Linked DNA regions of Homo sapiens: region 2 is linked to region 1. Evidence: fine-mapped QTL for protein levels in blood plasma. A gene starts in region 1. The other region holds a variant in brackets. All regions are shown on one strand. Distances are from middle to middle.

Region 1 (8,820 bases):
CACCTGCTGGGTGGGTTGGGTGAGCTCGGGTAAGAGGATAACGCTGCAGGAAGGGACCAGCAGGGAGTTGAGTCGAAAGATGGATGCTGCCCTCTCTGGAAGAGCCACTAGGTTTCGGGGCCAGTCAGCCCTCATGTTCGACCCTCATGTTCGAGGCCTCCAGCTCTGAGGCCGTGCTCTGTGTCTCTGTGCAAGCCATTCCTGGCAGGGACACGTGTAACCTGCCTTCCCCTGCAGGCTGCCCATGGACTGGAGCCCCTCACCACCCCTTCCTCTTACCTGTGTGGCCATTGTTGACCATGGGGAACTCCCCTGCCTGGGTCTCATAGCCTGTCATATTGAGCCCCTTCAAGGAGGGGTTGTACCGCACCTTCGTCCTCTGTAGGTTGATAGGCGACTGTCTCTGGCCCCCACAGGCGGGGTAGTGCTGTGGCCAGTGCGCTTCGTCCAGTGCCCCTTCTAAGACAGGAAAGACACAGTTCAAGGGGCTGCCTGGCTGCGCCCACTCTGGAGGAACCTCACCAGGCCAGAGGCCAGAGGCCAGGGCCTGCTGGGCGGGGACCCACGGAGGCACCTTCCAGAAAGCAGAAGCAGGTCCCCCAGAAGGAGGCCAAAAAGACAACGAGGTCAACTCCAAGGACTCTGGTGTTTGGGGGGCTTTGGTGCTAACCTCTAACTTTCCTGTGGCAACTGCTGGCCCTGGGAGCAAGACAGTGTTTTGAAATCAATGGAAGTCTTTTTTTTTTTTTTTTGAGACAGGGTCTCGCTGTGTCACCCAGGTTGGAGTGCAGTGGTGCAATCTTGGCTCACTGCAACCTCTGCCTCCCAGATTCAAGAGATTATCCGGCATCAGCCTCCGGAGTAGCTGGGATTACAGGCATGCACCACCACGCCTGGCTAATTTTTGTATTTTTAGTAGAGACGGGGTTTCACCATGTTGGCCAGGCTGATCTCTAACTCCTGACCTCAGGTGATCCACCCACCTTGGCCTCCCAAAGTGCTGGGATTACAGGCGTGAGCCACCGTGCCCGGCCTGAGAGTGTTTTATACGTAAATTTTTGCTCTCGTTTGACTTATTTCCAGCTGGTGAATGCATGGAGGGATCCTTGGCTTTGCTCTTCCTGTGCTGCTCCTGGGGCCTCTTCCTCATTTCCTCCCAAGGGCCCAGTTGTCCTTCCATGCCCCCAACAGGAACACAGCCCCCACCTCCCCATGCTGCAGGAACCCCCCACCACTATTTTCTTGCTCCAGCCCCTTTTATGGATTCCCGTATGGTAAAGACCATCTAGGTGTCTACACTTATGGATTCAGGGAAACTAAGGAAGCATCAGGTTCCAGGACAACCTAGAATGAGTACTTTTTTAAAATTCATAAGGAGAAAGTTTATCTTTTCAGAGAGGGTTGATAATCGTAGGGGACAGAGTAACATAGGTGAGTGATTATCATGGTGACTTGGCTCCCATACAGCTGTGGAGCTTGGAGTCAGCCATGTGACATGGAGAATCCCACCTCTGTTCCCTGTTCGGGGGTAGCTGTGTGGTGAGTACACAGCTTGTTTTAAGACAGGTGTTTGTGGCTGGGCACGGTGGCTCATGCCTGTAATCCCAACACTTTGGGAGGCCGAGGCGGGTGGATCACCTAAGGTTGGGAGCTCGAGACCCACCCTGACAAACCTGGAGAAACTCCATCTCTACTAAAAATAAAAAACAATCAGCCGGGCATGGTGGCACATGCCGTTAATCCCAGCTACTTGAGAGGCTAAGGCAGGAGAATCACTTGAACCCAGGAGGCAGAGGTTGCGGTGAGCCGAGATCGCGCCACTGCACTCCAGCCTGGGCAACGAGAGTGAAACTCTCAAAAAAAAAAAAAAAGGTGTCTGTACTAGGGCCCTCACCGCTTTTTGGTTTGTAATCAAGGCAATTGGCCTGGAGCACAACGCCTTCTCAGAGCAAGATGCTTTGGCCCAGGGCACTGTCAATACTGGAACATCTCTCAGGTTTCCCTGGAAGGCATTTACAAAAGCTACTCTCAAGTTCTCCTGGAGCCCCTAGTAGTTTCCCAGGAAGCCCACTGTCTCAGAGGCTGGGCAGAGCCTGGGAAGGACAAGGACTTCATTGTCTGAATTCTCTCTTCCTTCACCTCTGAACCACCTGCCTGCACTGCTTGGCCAAGTGAAGCAGAATGCCCCAGGCTTCCGAGGCACTGCCATGTGTAAGATCACTGTCCTCAGGAACAGAGCGGTTGTTCAGAGCTGGCTGGACTTTCTGAACCTCCCAGGATGTCCCTAATTCCGTTGCCCTTGACTTAACAGATCATCCCGTTCACCCTGAAGGAATGCTTCCGGAGCAGCTGAACTGGGGCAGACTCTGCAGGAAGCAGATGTTTGTCTCACTTCCTGCATCAGCCAGCGGCCACCAGCCTCCTCATGGGCCCCAATCCATGGTCCCGTATGGAAAGAAGGGGGATGCGGGAAGAAGCTCTCCTCACTGCCCCTGGAAAGGGCTGTTTAGTGTCCACAAAGTCCACAGACACGGCCTTCTAGCTTTGGCTCACATGTGGACCAGAACCCATGTTGAATGCCAGGATTTTACATTTCACATTTTAAAAGTCTGGTTTGGGGCCTGGCGCGGTGGCTCACGCCTGTAATCCCAGCACTTTGGGAGGCTAAGGTGGGCGGATCACTTGAGGTCAGAAGTTTGAGAACAGCCTGGCCAACGTGGTAAAACCCCATCTCCACTAAAAATACAAAAGTTAGCCAGGCATGGTGATGAGTGCCTGTAATCCCAGCTACTTGGGAGGCTAAGACATGAGAATCGCTTGAAACCAGGAGGCAGAGGTTGCAGTAAGCCGAGATGGCACCACTGAACTCCAGCCTGGGCAACAGAGCAAGACTCTGTCTCAAAAAAAAAAAAAAAACAAAAAAAAAAACACCTCTCATTTTGGCAGCCCACAGATCAAAGGGAACTGGGTCCTTATGTCAAGATGTTCTGGGTAAACTGCCTACCATGAAATTTCCAAGAAAGAAGGTCTCGCAAACCCCACAGCACCTTCCGTGAGGTTACCGAGAGTCTTTTCTAAGAACTTTGTTTTCCACTTACACGGACCAACAAAGCAAATGGTTTTACAAATAGAAGCAGTGAGTGTGCTTTTGAACCAGCCAACACTGTGGATGGAAAAAAATTTAAAGCAAAAAGCCTGTAAGTAAATCAGGAGTTTGTGAAGGGGAAAGCTATTTCCTTCTTTTCCTTATTTGAAGTTTAAGTTCAGCTTATTCTCCATACCTTCTGAGACACTGAAAAGGTAACATCTGAAGCCACAATGAGCAGACCCCCAACATATGGCAAGTGGGCTGCCTGGCCATCCTGTGAAATGCCCTAAAGGAGGACTCTTGGCCGGGCGCAATGGCTCATGCCTGTAATCCCAGCACTTTGGGAGATGGGCAGATCACCTAAGGTCAGGAGTTCGAGACCAGCCTGGACAACATGGTGAAACCCTGTCTCTACTAAAAATACAAAAATTAGCCAGGCATGGTGGCAGGCACCTGTAATCCCAGGTACTCGGGAGGCTAAGGCAGCAGAATCACTTGAACCCGGGAGGCGGAGGTTGCAGTGAGCCAACATCACACTACTGTACTCAAGCCTGGGCAACAGAGCAAGACTTTGTCTAAAAAAAAAAAAAAGAAGAAGAAGAAGGGCACTTGTCCTGTTGTAAGGGTGTGAGGGTAACTGGGGGAGCATGCAGAAGCTAGGGGCTCACCTGAGTAGGTCCAGTCAGACACATGCTGGGCCTGGCCACCCAGCAGGAACAGGGACAGCAGAAGCACCAGGGCCCTCATGGTGCTGCACATCTGTAATGAAGACTGATTCCGGCGAAGCTCTTCTTTTAAAGGCTCAGAAACTGTAAATAACAATTTACAATTGATCTGCCCAGCTGGCTAAACCACCCTTTGCTGCACCCACTAAAACAATAACACCCTCCCCATAACAGCACTTCTGGCTCCGTGCATTGCGCCAGGCAGCCCCAGCACCTGCCTGATCTCCTCCCACGTCAATTTCATATCCGGTCAGTCCATGGGTTTGGTTGTTCAGTGTCTTAGGAACACCTGAAGAGCCACACAGTGCAGCCATTGTGGACAGGTGACCGCGGAAATGGGAAAAGGCCCAAGGCAGGGAGAAGCAGGATGAAAGACTTTCCTGGACGTCGGACTTCCCATGCTCTTTCTCCTGACATTAGAGATCTGGGGACTGCTGATGGGATCACCACTGCCTGCAAACCCTGCCCATCTCAGTCATGGACACAAGCCACCGCTGCAGACATGTGGCTGCCCTCAGCCAGGCATCCAGGGAGGTGGCCTGGCCTCCATGTTTGGACATTTCACGGTCCTCTCCTTAAACCAGTGGTTGATCCTGGGTCCCAGCTCATGAGCCACATTCCAATGTGTGCCTTTATGCCATTCAAGCTGGTGTGGGCGTCTGCATTTCTACATGGATTTGTTCTGACACCTGCAGGGCTCTTGGGCACACCTAAGCCAATCAGCCAATTGCCCTCGCAGGATCCATGGATTACCTAATCCTGTGTATTCACTTGGCTAGACAGTCCCTGAAATTAGCTGAAGGAGAAACTTTTGAGTTTATGCCTGCTGACAGGCCAGCATTTCCCATGCCCTTCCACAAGGTCAAACACAAAGGGTAGCCGGAGCTCCTGCGGGGGGGCTACCATGCTGCCGGACACAAAGGGCCACCCCTGCCTTGTTATGGGGAGCTGAACCCCCTCCTGGCCTAGCTTAACTCATTGTCCACTTGGTCCTGGAATGGCAAACGTCAGCAGGCCTTCACAACAAGGATGTTAGCGGTGAACGTAGGCCTCCCGAATACTTCTAAGACTCCCCACTGTCATTTAATAGGGAACATCAGCTGCTGCAAAGAACTTGCTGGAAACTTCCATTTCTAAAGCTCAAGAGCTGAAAGAATCTCAGAGAGAGAGCAAAGCATGTTCAAGGACAAGGATTCTGAAACTAGACAGGATCTGTGCCACCTGCTAACTGTGTGACCATGGGCAACTCAGCGCTCTGTGCCTCAGCTTTCCTTCCTTTTCTTTTTTCTCTTTCTTTCTTCCTTTCTCTCTTTCTTTTCTTTCTCTCTTTCTCTCTTTCTTTCTTTTTTGAGACAGGGTCTCTCTCTGTCACCAGGCTGGAGTGCAATGATACGATTTCAGCTCACTTCTCTTGGACTCAAGCAATCCTCCTGCCTCAGCTTCCCAAGTAGCTGGGACCACAGTCGCATGCCACTACGCCCTGCTAATTTTTGTACTTTTTGTAGATACAGGTTTTCACCATGTTGCTTAGGCTGGCCTCAAACTCCTGGACTCAAGCGATTCTCCCGCCTCGTGCTCCCAAAGTGCTGGGATTACAGGCGTGAGCCGCCGCACCTGGCCGCCTCCTTTCTTTAAAAGGAGTTAGTGATAGCACCTCCTTTGTGGGGATTCGGCAATAAATGTGCCTGCAGTAGTTGGAGCAGTGCCTGGTGTGTAGCAAATGGCATTAGCATCTATTCAGACCCCTCATTTTATAGGAAAAGGAAGTGATTTATCATTGCCACCCAGCTGGTTAGTGAGGGAACTGGAGGAAAAATGCTTCAATCTCCAGCTTATGGACCATTTCTTTGCAAAAATGAGAAACCTACTCTTCTGTCCTTGCTAAACCAGTGACGCCCACCTGCTGACTCCCAGCCCTGCGGAAAGGGCCACCTTGTAAATCACAAGGCCCCACCTCTGCTGAGGAGACCAAGACCCTTTACAAGCCCAGGCAGGACCCCTGACATCAAACTGGCAGGAAAACACAAACTCAGTCATCTGAATTTTTTCTTGGGAATCTGAATTGGGAGACCCAGAAAGAATCAGGGAGCTGCAGGCAGGCAGAGACTAAAATGTCAGGCTGTCACGGAAGCCTGGGAGGACTGGATGAGCCCAGGCGAGGGGAACTGGAGCAGGAAGGAGCTCAGAGAAAGCCTGGGCCAAGGGGGAGGGGAAGACTGCCCAAAGAGGGGCCCTGGAGAGTCAGAGAGAGGAGTGCTTGCGGGAGAGCACAGTGAAATGCAGAGGGCCCACCACTCCTGGCAGCTCCCAGCCCCACGGGTCTCACTGCCCTGCGGTGAGCATTTGGGGCTTCCCAGGAGAGCTCTGGGGCGTTCCTTGCCTCACACAGCTCCTTAAAATACAGTGCACATACTGCGTCTGTGAAGCTGTGATGCCAGCAGCCCCTCTGCAGAACTGCTGTGCAGCGTATCCACCCATCACATCTGAAGCTTTGCCCTGGTTTTGCCTTTCGCTCAGGCAAGAGCCTGGACTGGCCAGCAACCTGTTGACCTGGCTGGTGTTGAGAATTGGTGTGAAAGTGAGTAATTAAGGCAATACGGGGGTCAGATCAGATGATGGCCTCTTGGAGAAGCAAGGCCATCTGCCAACGAGGGCATATTTCTAGAGAGAGGGTCCCCTCCCTCCGCTGTACAGCACACTGCCAAGGACATACTGGACCCAGAATCAGGTGTGGTCAGTAGTGTTGCCTATTTTCTGACTCCTTGTCTACTTCAAACCTGAAATTTTCCGTCACCTTTGAACATGAGTCTTCTTCTTGGATTTGGGAGGCACATTGTTTGTTTGGGTTTGCTTTTGTTGGTGGTGGTGGCAGTGGGTTTTTGTTGTTGTTGTTTTTGGTTTTTGGTTTCTTTTTTGAGACAGGGTCTCACTCTGTTGCCCAGGCTGGAGTGCAGTGGTGCAATCATGGCTCACTGCAGCCTCCCAGTGCTCAGGTGATCCTCCCGCCTCAGCACCCCCTTCCGCCTCATCCCCTCCAAGTAGCTGGGACAACAGGTGCGTGCCCTATGTGTGCTCTGTTTTTGTTGCTTTTATTTTTAGTGTGTCTCTCTATGCTATGAGCTTCCTTCTGCCTTCATCCAACCATATCCTTGGCTGATCAAGGTTGTTTTTTTAATTCTAAACTCCTATTTTTCTAGGGTCTATGGTTGGATTGGCTGTCGGAGATGAGTTGACAAGTTTATCATTATTACAACATCAGGTCAAAGGGAGAAAGGAGCCTTTGTTCTTCCTTGCTTCTACCACTGCCCCCCCGACAAGGCCCACTGAGGCAAGGAAAAAGAAGGAGGCAGGGAGGCATGGCCAGCCCAGGTGGGCAAGAAGGCACCATCAGCCCAGGTGAGCAGGGACAGATCATGAACCAAATGACTAGGGAGGCACCGTTAGCCCAGGCTGCACAGGACCAGCATAAAAGAATGAGTCTGGCAGGCCAGGCACGGTGGCTCACACCTGTAATCCCAGCACTTGGGGAGGCCGAGGTGGGTGGATCACCTGATGTCAGGAGTTCAAGACCAGCCTGGGCAACATGGTGAAACCCCGTCTCTACTAAAAATACAAAAATTAGCCAGGCATAGTGGTGCGTGCCTGTAATTCCAGCTACTTGGGAGGCCGAGCCATGAGAATCACTTGAACCCAGGAGGCAGAGGTTGCAGCGAACTGAGATCACGCCACTGCACTCCAGCCTGGGCAACAGAACGAGACTCTGTCTCAAAAACAACAACAAAAACAAACAAAAAACAAACAAAAAAGAAAGAGTCTGCCTACACAAGAATATGCTTATTTGGGTGTAAGTAACACAGAAAGGCTATTGTTCTGTTTCATGCAGGAGTGTGAGCTCATCCTGAAGAATGAGTCACTCTGAACAAGTAAGTTCTAGATGGTTACAGGCTCAATCCTATGTAAGCACCAAGATGTTTAAAACCTCTAAAATGTACGGTACAGTTTTAAAAAGATAAAGCTGAATTTTATTAAACTTTTCTTAATGACTGAGTCCCACTAATATGAACATCAATTATTCTCCTGCATTGTAATATATTGATGTCTGCTGGGCCTATAACATATAACATATATATATAATTCTCCCTGCAAGAAACGACCCCTGGCCAGGCACAGTGGCTCACACCTATAATCCCAGCACTTTGGGAGGCCAAGGGGGATGGATCACCTGAGGTCAGGAGTTCGAGCCCAGCTTGGCCAACATGGTGAAACCCCGTCTCTTCTGAAAATACAAAAGTAGCCAGGCATGGTGGCATGTGCCTGTGATCCCAGCTACTCGGGAGGCTCAAGAGGGAGACTCCATCGTCTCAAAAAAAAAAAGAAAGAAAGGAAAGAAATGACCCCTAACTGTAGTTTTTGGATTTCTTTTACCAGATACTGAGAGAGGAAAGTTAGCTAGCTTAATTGATTACTAAAGCAATGCACGTTTATGCTCAGGGGTATCCATAAGGCTGGGACATAACCAATCAGGACAGAAGCCAGACTTGGTGTGGAGGAAAGTCTGAAAGCTCCCTGCTCTGCCAGGAGTTAACCCTGGATTGGTGGATTGTAGGGAGATTGGGAAGTTCTTGGGAAGGGCTGAGCGGCAGGAGCAGCTGGAGGTACCATTGTGTGTGTATTGATTTTGTTTTTCATTGTTTTTTCATTGTTAGCATTTCTTTCTTTTTTTCTTTTCTTTTTTTTTTTTTTTTTTTTGAGATGAAGCTTCACTCTTGTTGCCCAGGCTGGAGTGCAATGGCGTGATCTCGGCTCACTGCAACCTCCACCACCCGGGTTCAAGTGACTCTCCGGCCTCAGCCTCCCAAGTAGCTGGGATTACAGGCGCCCACCACCATGCCTGGCTAATTTTTGTATTTTTAGTAGAGACGGGGTTTCACCATGTTGGTCAGGCTGGTCTTGAATTCCTGACCTGAGGTGATCCGCCTGCCTTGGCCTCCCAAAGTGCTGAGATTA
Region 2 (8,704 bases), 28 kb before region 1:
TGGAAACCCTGCAGTCGCTGCCGTCACCTACAGGGTAAAATCCGAAACCCTTTAGTGGCACAGAAGATACCAGTGACGGCCTGACCTGCCCTGGCCACACCCCCGCTTTCCGTGCCAGCATCCTTGAACTTGGTCCTCTGACCACGCCAAATTGCTTCCACTTCCCCAGGTGTCTTCCCATCAGCACATGCCACACTCTCGGGTTACAATACCCCCGCCCCTCTCTGACTTGGTTTCCCAGGTGAACTCTTTCTCAGCCTTCAAAACCCAGGCCAAGCACTTGGATTTTAAACACAGGCGCTCCCTCCACCATGGGGCGATATGGCGATTACTTATTTTAGTGTCCACTCTGCTCACCAGACCCGAGCTGTAGGAGTGTGGGAGCTGTTCTCACCCATCCCTGAACCCCCAGCACCTAGTGTTATGTCAGGCTCAGAGCAAGTGCATAAGAAAGCTTGTTGAGAAAATGAAAGGGAGGCTTCCTATGGTTAAAAGAATGTGGATACAAAAGACTTGGGTTCAAATCCTGGCTTTTCATCTGCCACCTAGGAGATCTTGGGCAAGTCGACGTCTTGGTTTGCTTTCTGTAAACTGGGGATAATGCAAGTTCACTGAAGGTGGCCTTCGGGGCTGAGGGCAGTCACGTGTGGTGGAAGTGCTTAGGATATGACAAATAATGACATGGAAAAACAACAGAGGTAACAAGAGCAGAAGGAATTCAGAAGAGCCAGGGTGAGCTCAATCAGAAGTGAGGAGGAAGCTAAGGCATGGGAAGGAAGGGGCATCGATGAAGGGAATGCATAAGTGACCAAGAAAATTGGTAGCAGCCAGGTGTGGTGGCTCATGCCTATAATTCCAGCACCTTGGGAGACCAAAGGTAGGAAGATCACTTGAGCCCAGGAGGTTGAGGCTGCCATGAAGCTAGGATCACCACTGCACTCCAGCCTAGGCCACAGAGCAAGATCCTGTCTCAAAAAACATAAAAATAAAAATAAAAAATATGGGTCACTCTTCTGGGTACTTCTCAGTGTTATTTAATGATAAAAAAAATATGGGTCACTCTTCTGGGTACTTCTCAGTGTTATTTAATGAAGCCACAGCCCTATGAGCCCTGTGAGGTCATGTTATCATCCCACATAACTAATGGGATGCCTGAATCTGGGTCTGGTAACAAGGACCAGGCACCATTTGACCAACAAGGGGGTTTGCAGTGAGGTCCCCTCTCTTCTTTCCTTCTGTCCTGGGAGCCCTTCTTCTTTCTCGTCTCCTGTTTTTTCTTTGACTCACAGCCACTGCTCCAAACTTCCCCACTGACAAATTCTCAGTGTAAGAATCTCTTCCTAGGCCAGGGGTGGTGGCTCACGCCCGTAATCCCAACACTTTGGGAGGCCGAGGCAGGAGGATCACCTGAGATCAGGAGTTTGAGACCAGCCTGGCCAACATGGCAAAACCCCATCTCTACTAAAAATACAAAAATTAGCTGGGCGTGGTGGTGCACACCTGTAATCCCAACTACTTGGGAGGCTGAGGCAGAATAATTGCTTGAACCCAGAAGGCAGAGGTTGCAGTAAAATTATACCACTGGATTCCAGCCTGAGCAACAAAGCGAGGCTCTGTCTCAAAGGAAAAGAAAAGGCCAGGCGCGGTGGCTCACGCCTGTAATCCCAGCACTTTGGGAGGCCGAGGCGGGCGGATCATAAGGTCAAGAGATCGAGACCATCCTGAGCAACATGGTGAAACCCCGTCTCTACTAAAAATACAAAAAATTAGCTGGGCATGGTGGTGCGCAACTGTAGTCCCAGCTACTCAGGGAGGCTGAGGCAGGAGAATTGCTTGAACCCAAGAGGTGGAGGTTGCAGTGAGCCAAGATTGTGCCACTGCACTCCAGCCTGGCAACAGAGTGAGACTCCATCTCAAAAAAATAAGCAACAACAACAAAAAACACCTCCTTCCTTTTTATTAATCTTAGTCTTGGAAATCCCTCCCACTTTGATCTCTATCCCTTCACCTATGTGCGGTTGTGGGGGAGTAGGGGGAGGAGTGGGGGGAGGAGTCGGGGGCGGGCAGAACAAAGAAGGGATATTTGAAGTAATACAAAGGAATAGGAAAGAAATTTTTAAATGACAAATTTCCAAAGTTATTTTATTACATCTAATGCTAAAGGAAAGGTCAGGCTGGTTTATAATTCAGACAGGTCAACATATATGATTTGATGGGAGAATAGTTAGGGTTCCATTTCCTTTAAGTTTCTATTCCAATCAATTTCCACTGGTGATGTCTAACTCAGATCCCGTCTCATGAACTGAAGCCATCTCACTTCCTGTCCAGGATGATCGTTTCCCCTCTTTTAATCAGAATCCCAACAGCTGCCCCAGGGGGAGCAGCGTGTTCCAGACACACATGGTTTCTTAGACAAGGTAGGGTGCGGCTGCAGCGGACAGGCACTTCTGGCTAGGTCAGGCTTCAAGCTAGTTAATATTGAATCTTCCTCTTAGCTTTCCTCAGTTCAATGCTCTTCTTAAGTAGTCAAGAATTTCCTCAATCTTATGTAGGTAAAACTGGAATTCAGAGCCTAGAGTGTATTCTGTAAAAAGAAGAGTTAGTCGGAAATGGTTAAACCTTGTACAGTCCTCACAAAAACAGAGAAGGGGGACGGCCAGACACCATACCCGCATCGTATTTTTGGGAAGTCTTTTGATTCCTTAGAATGCTCTCCACGTGCCCGGTGCATTGCCTTTAGTCATCTTCACTGTGTTTGAACTCAGGCTTCTAAGCTGCCCAGAGCCAAGGGGTGGCGTGTTGAGGTGGGCTGTACTCTTGGATTTTGGCTTCTCCCACGATGCCCCCCGTGGCCCTTGCCTGAGGGGATATAGGCGTTTTCTAGTAAATAAATCGCAAGAGGTCCGTATTTGGCCATCGTCTTGTTTTTGTAACTGACCTTGGTTTCTCAATTCACTCCTTGCAGGTGGGTTAATCATATCAACCCCGCTGGGATACAGTTCTCTACAGAACAGTGAAATACCATGAGTCACGCAGCTGGGTTGACCACAGCCAATCACTGCTACATAGAAATCTGGGCCTGGCCAGGCGCGATGGCTCATGCCTGTAATCCCAGCACTTTGGGAGGCTGAAGTGGGTGGATTGCTTGAGCTCAGGAGTTCGAGACCAGCCTGGGCCACATGGCCAAAGCCCGTCTCTACAAAAAAATACAAAAATTAGCTGGGTGTGGTGGTACATGCTACTCCCAGCTACTTGGGAGGTCGAGGTAGGAGGACTGCTTGAGCCCTGGAGGTCATGGCTGCAGTGAGCCAAGATTGCGCCATTGCACTCCAGTCTGGGCAACAGAGCAAGACTCTGTCAAAAAAAGAAAGAAAGAGAGGAAGAAAGAGAGAGAGAGAGAGAGAGAGGGAGGGAGGGAAAAGAAAGAAAGAAAGAAAGAAAGAAAGAAAGAAAGAAAGAAAGAAAGAAAGAAAGAAAGAAAGAAAGAAAGAAAGAGAGAGAAAGAAAAATCCAGGCCTGAGGGAAGGTGGGCCAAGATGATGCCCAGTTGTCTGTTCTATAATCAGCAAAGGGAGGCCACAATTCGGGTTCCCTGGGGGTAAGGAAGCCCTCTGATGCTGAACTGGGAGTTGAAGTAATCGATCCTAAACAGCGATTCTTAGTGGACCTACAGACAAATCACAGCATGGAATACCTCAGTCTGGGGCCGGTACCTAGAACATCTGACCCCCTCGTGAGGAGATGCTAGAGTGACGCTGTAGTGGAAAAAGCATTTCAGATGTGGCAAATAGAACGATACGCAGTCTGTTAGTGACTATTGCAAGAATAGCGTAAAATTGTTTTAGGGAAAGCAGGGGAAATATGGCAACATTTAGACCTAGGAGACAGGCCGGGCACAGTGACTCACACCTGTAATCCCAGCAATTTGGGAGGCCGGGCAGGCGGATCACCTGAGGTCAGGAGTTCAAGACCAGCCTAACCAACATGGTGAAATCCCATCTCTACTAAAAATACAAAAATTAGCCTGGCGTGGGGGCGCGTGCCTGTAATCCCAGCTACTTGGGAGGCTGAGGCAGGAGAATTGCTTGAATCTGGGAGGCGGAGGTTGCAGTGAGCCCATGAGATTGCACCACTGCACTCCAGCCTGGGCGACAGAGTGAGAGACTCCAAAAGAATTAGGAGACAGACCCATGAGTCTAAGCTCCCTTTGGTCAGCCTGCTTGCAATTGGACCTGTTAAAGACGACATCACTTTCGGACAAAGGGATTCTTGCTGTTAATGTTGTATATGGTATAATATGGGGAAATGATTACTGTAACTGATGTCAGTTTTTTTCTTCTGTTAGTATTGTATTGGAGGAGTGAATTGTATTTCAGGAAACAATATAGAAAACACCTATATCCTCTGTTAATTCAGTAAGTGAACCAGGAAGGAAAGGTGGGGAGAAAATCACAAATAGGCCTTATTCGGGTTGGGGAGGTGGAAATTTAATTTTTTTGTTTGTTTGTTTGTTTTGGTTTTTTGAAACAGAGTCTCTCTCTGTCGCCCAGGCTGGAGTGCAGTGGCGCAATCTCGGCTCACTGCAAGCTCCGCCTCCCGGGTTCATGCCCAGCTACTCAGCCTCCCCAGTCTCAGCCTCCCCAGTAGCTGGGACTACAGGCGCCCGCCACCTCGCCTGGCTAATTTTTTGTATATTTAGTAGAGGCGGGGTTTCACCATGTTAGCCAAGATGGTCTCGATCTCCTGACATCGTGATCTGCCCGCCTCAGCCTCCCAAAGTGCTGGGATTACAGGCGTGAGCCGCCACACCCGGAGGAAATTTAAGTTTTAAAAGGTACATATAAAGATGGGATAAGGCCGAACGAGGTGGCTCGTGCTTATAATCCCAGCACTTTGGGAGGCTGAGGGGGGAGGATTGCTTGTGGCCAGGAGTTTGAGACCAGTCTGAGCAACATAGTAAGAGTCCATCTCTACAAAAACTACAAAAAAAATTAGCTGGGTGTGGTGGTGTGTGCCTGCAGTCTCCGCTACTGGGGAGGCTGAGGTGGGAGGATCACTTGAGCCTGGATGTTTGAGGCTGCAGTGAGCCGTGATTGTGCCACTGAGCTCCAGCCTGGGCAACAGACTGAGACCTTGTCTCAAAAAAGAAAAAAAAAGTGGGATAATATTGAGTACACAATATTGATAGGATACTGATTCTACTGTATTGGAAAATATAAAGGTATCAGGAATGGTTAACAGAATGGGCTGTAAAGACAATGGATTCACCACAACTTTACAGAAAGCAGACAAAATAAAGATGAGGAGGCTGTGAAATATTTACACTCTTGCCAACACAGAAACGAGGTGAGCCAAGGACACGGTTGGAGCCTGATCCAAGGAACTGGAGGATGCAGCGGAGGCTGGCCTGCCCGCACCTGCTTCCAGCACGCTGGGGTCTGGGGCCTGCGCCCCAGGCAGATGCAGGGAACAATATGTGGTCTAGTTAACTCCACTTTGAGAGAATGTATAGGAGGCGTTGGGGGTGGGTTCATAACACAGACTATGATCAAGATGCGCAGGAAATAATCTGGGTGGGGTTAATAAGGTTAACTTGGCCAGGCACGGTGGCTCCCGCCTGTAATCCCAGCACTTTGGGAGGCCGAGGTGGGCAGATCACCTGAGGTCAGGAGTTTGGGACCAGCCTGGCCAATATGGCAAAGCCCCATTTCAGTTAAAAAAAAAAAATTAGCCGGGCGTGGTGGTAGGTGCCTGTAGTCCCAGCTACTGGGGAGGTTGAGGCAGGAGAATTGCTTGAACCCGGGAAGCAGAGGTTGTAGTGAGACGAGATTGCACCACTGCACTCCAGCCTGGGTGACAGAGTGAGACTCTGTCTCAAAAAAAAAAAAAAAAAAGGTTAACTTGAACCTACACTCTTGTGAGAGCTTCCGGATGTTGTGGTCTTCTTGCTTCTCCTGCTCTCTCTAGCCAAGACTAGGTAGGTAATAAATCACGTAGCTGTCGCTTCTGATTGTCTCGTGTGTTCTACTCACTGGCATCCCTGCCTGGACTGGGAAAAAGTCATCACCCTCTGCCCAAGCCCTGTGCAGCTTGGCCCACCTGAGCCTCTTGCTACTGAAATGACTCTCCTTCCCTTATATCACCAGAAGAGATGGGTCCACCTAGAGGAAGGAGCAAAACAGGAGTTAAACTGCAGAGCATGATCAAGAGTCGGTCTCACTCACCCTGATTCGGGAAGTTGGATTCCACCACTCTGTGGTTCAGGGGCTGGGTCCTGCGGTAATCGTTGTGGATGGTCTTGTTGCGGTGATCCAGTAAGGAATTCTCCAGCTTCCAAACCTGGGGGCAACGTGAGTGCATTATGGAGGGGAAGAGTCACTGGGTAATTTAAAAGAAATAACAGTTGGCCCGGCGCAGTGGCTCACGCCTGTAATCCCAGCATTTTGGGAGGCTGGGGCGGGCAGATCACTTGAGCTCAGGAGTTGGAGACCAGCCTGGCCAACATGGTGAAACCTCTTCTCTACTAAAAATTAGCTGATCATGGTTGTGTGCACCTGTAATCCCAGCTACTCAGGAGGCTGAGGCAGGAGAATCGCTTGAACCTGGGAGGCAGAGGCTGCAGTAAGCCAGTATCACGCAACCGCACTCCAGCCTGGGAGACAGAGAGAAACTCTGTCTCAAAAAAAATAAAAAATAAAAAAGAATTAACAACTGGGCTAGAGTTTGGATTTATATAACCCTGATGAAGTGACTGTAAGAAGATCTCAAGTCCAGGGGAGGTTCTGGGTGCTGTGTCTCAGGCATTATTCCAGAACTAATCTATCCGTGCATTCTTCCAACAGGTATCTGCACACAAGCTCTCTTTTCAGCTTTTTATATGAGTATTTGTCCAGTAGTAGAAAGGAGAGAAAGAAGAAGCAGAAATATATCAAGTGGCAAACTCAATTTTTGTTTTTCTGAAAATGTCAGGTTTTTCTCTTTTTTTTTTTTTTTTTTTTTTGAGACCAGAGTCTCGCTCTGTCGCCAGGCTGGAGTGCAGTGACGCGATTGCGGCTCACTGCAACCTCCACCTCCCGGGTTCAAGTTATTCTCTCCTGCCTCAGCCTCCTGACTAGCTGGGACTACAGGCACCCACCCACACACCCAGATAATTTTTATATTTTTAGTAGAGATGGGGTTTCACCATGTGGGCCAGGCTGGTCTCAAACTCCTCAGGCCATTCGCCCACTCAGCCTCCCATAGTGCTGGAATTACAGGTATGAACCACCTCACCTGACCTGAAAATGTCTGTATTTTGTCTATATCCTTGAAAGGCATCTTTGCTGCACATACAATTCTATATTGGCTATTTTTTTTCCCTCGGCACTTTGAAATTATGTTTCCACTCCCTTCTGACTTTCACTGTGGCTGTTAAATCAACTCTCTGTCTAATAATACTCTTTTCATGATAATCTGTCTTTTCTTTCTGGCTAATTTTTAAATAGTTTCTTTGTCTTTGATGATTTCAATGTGATGCGTTTACTGCAGGATGTTGTGTATACACACACACACATATCTACACACCCAGAGAGAGAGAGAGACAGAGAGAGAAACTAATTGGCATTCTTGAATATATGACTTGGTATCTCTTCCTGAAAATTGTCAGCCAATATTTTGTCAAATCATGCCTCTTCCCTACTCTGCCTCTCTTCTCCTTCTAGGATTTTGATTAGACATTTACTAGAC[C/T]TTTCCAGTACACAATGTCTCTTCACTTCTTTTCATAGTTCCATCTCCTTTTCTCTGTGCTGCATTCTAGATAATGTTATTGGCTGTCTCCAATTTACTAATTCTCTCTCAAACTGTATCTAACATGCGTTAAACCCATTCATTGGGTTTTTGTTTTTGTTTTTTTGAGATGGAGTCTTGCCCTGTTGCCCAGGCTGGAGTGCAATGGCATGATCTCAGCTCACTGCAACATCCGCCTCCTGGGTTCAAGCGATTCTCCTGCCTCAGCCTCCTGAGTGGCTGGGATTATAGGTTCACACCACTATGCCCGGCTAATTTTTTGTATCTTTAGTAGAGACAGGGTTTCACCATGTTGGCCAGGCTGGTCTCGAACCCCTGACCTCGTGATCCACCCGCTTTGGCGTCCCAAAGTGCTGGGATTACAGGCTTGAGCCACCGTGCCCAGCAAACTTTTTTTTTTTTTGAGACAGGGTTTTGCTCTGTTGCCCAGGCTGGAGTGCAGTAGTGCAATCTTGGCTCACTGCAACCTCCACGTCCCAGGTTCAAGTGATTCTTCCACCTCAGCCTCTGGGGTAGCTGGGATTACAAGCGCCCCACCACCACGACTGGCTAATTTTTTGTACTTTTAGTAGAGACGGGGTTCCACCATGTTGGCCAGGCTGATCTCAAACTCCTGACCTCAGGTGATCCACCCACTTTGGCCTCCCAAAGTGCTGGGATTACAGGCATGAGACACCACAACTGGCCTGGATTATTAATTTTTGATACTATTTTTCCATTTCTAGAAATTCTATTTGAGTTTTTGTCCCAAGTCTGGATGTCCATTTTTATACTTTTTTGCTCTTTTCTCATATTTAAACCTTTTATTTCTTTATACATGTTAAACATTCTTATGTCATATTAATTGTCTGATAATTCCACTAACTGAAGTCTTTGTAGGTCTGATTCTGCTGGTTCTCATCTATAATGTCTTTTTTTC

The links. PIP is the posterior inclusion probability: the model's chance that the variant is causal. Protein levels are from antibody-based Olink assays in UK Biobank. Linkage for the fine-mapping came from a reference panel and not from the study's own genotypes, which makes the PIPs less certain.
Region 2: its variant is fine-mapped to the plasma level of the CA6 protein (UK Biobank, PIP 0.93).

The regions. Positions count from the first base shown.
Region 1 is chr1:8,940,902-8,949,721 of GRCh38, reverse strand. It overlaps CA6 (carbonic anhydrase 6), which reads right to left and starts at 3,854. Exons shown (of 8, transcript NM_001215.4): 1 at 3,757-3,854; 2 at 280-459. The coding sequence starts at 3,835.
Region 2 is chr1:8,968,502-8,977,205 of GRCh38, reverse strand. It overlaps CA6 (carbonic anhydrase 6), which reads right to left. Exons shown (of 8, transcript NM_001215.4): 7 at 6,225-6,339; 8 at 2,114-2,584. The coding sequence ends at 2,502. Among named protein-coding and RNA genes, the nearest start is that of CA6, 27 kb to the right of the region's middle. The variant C/T (reference allele first, on the strand shown) is at 7,726.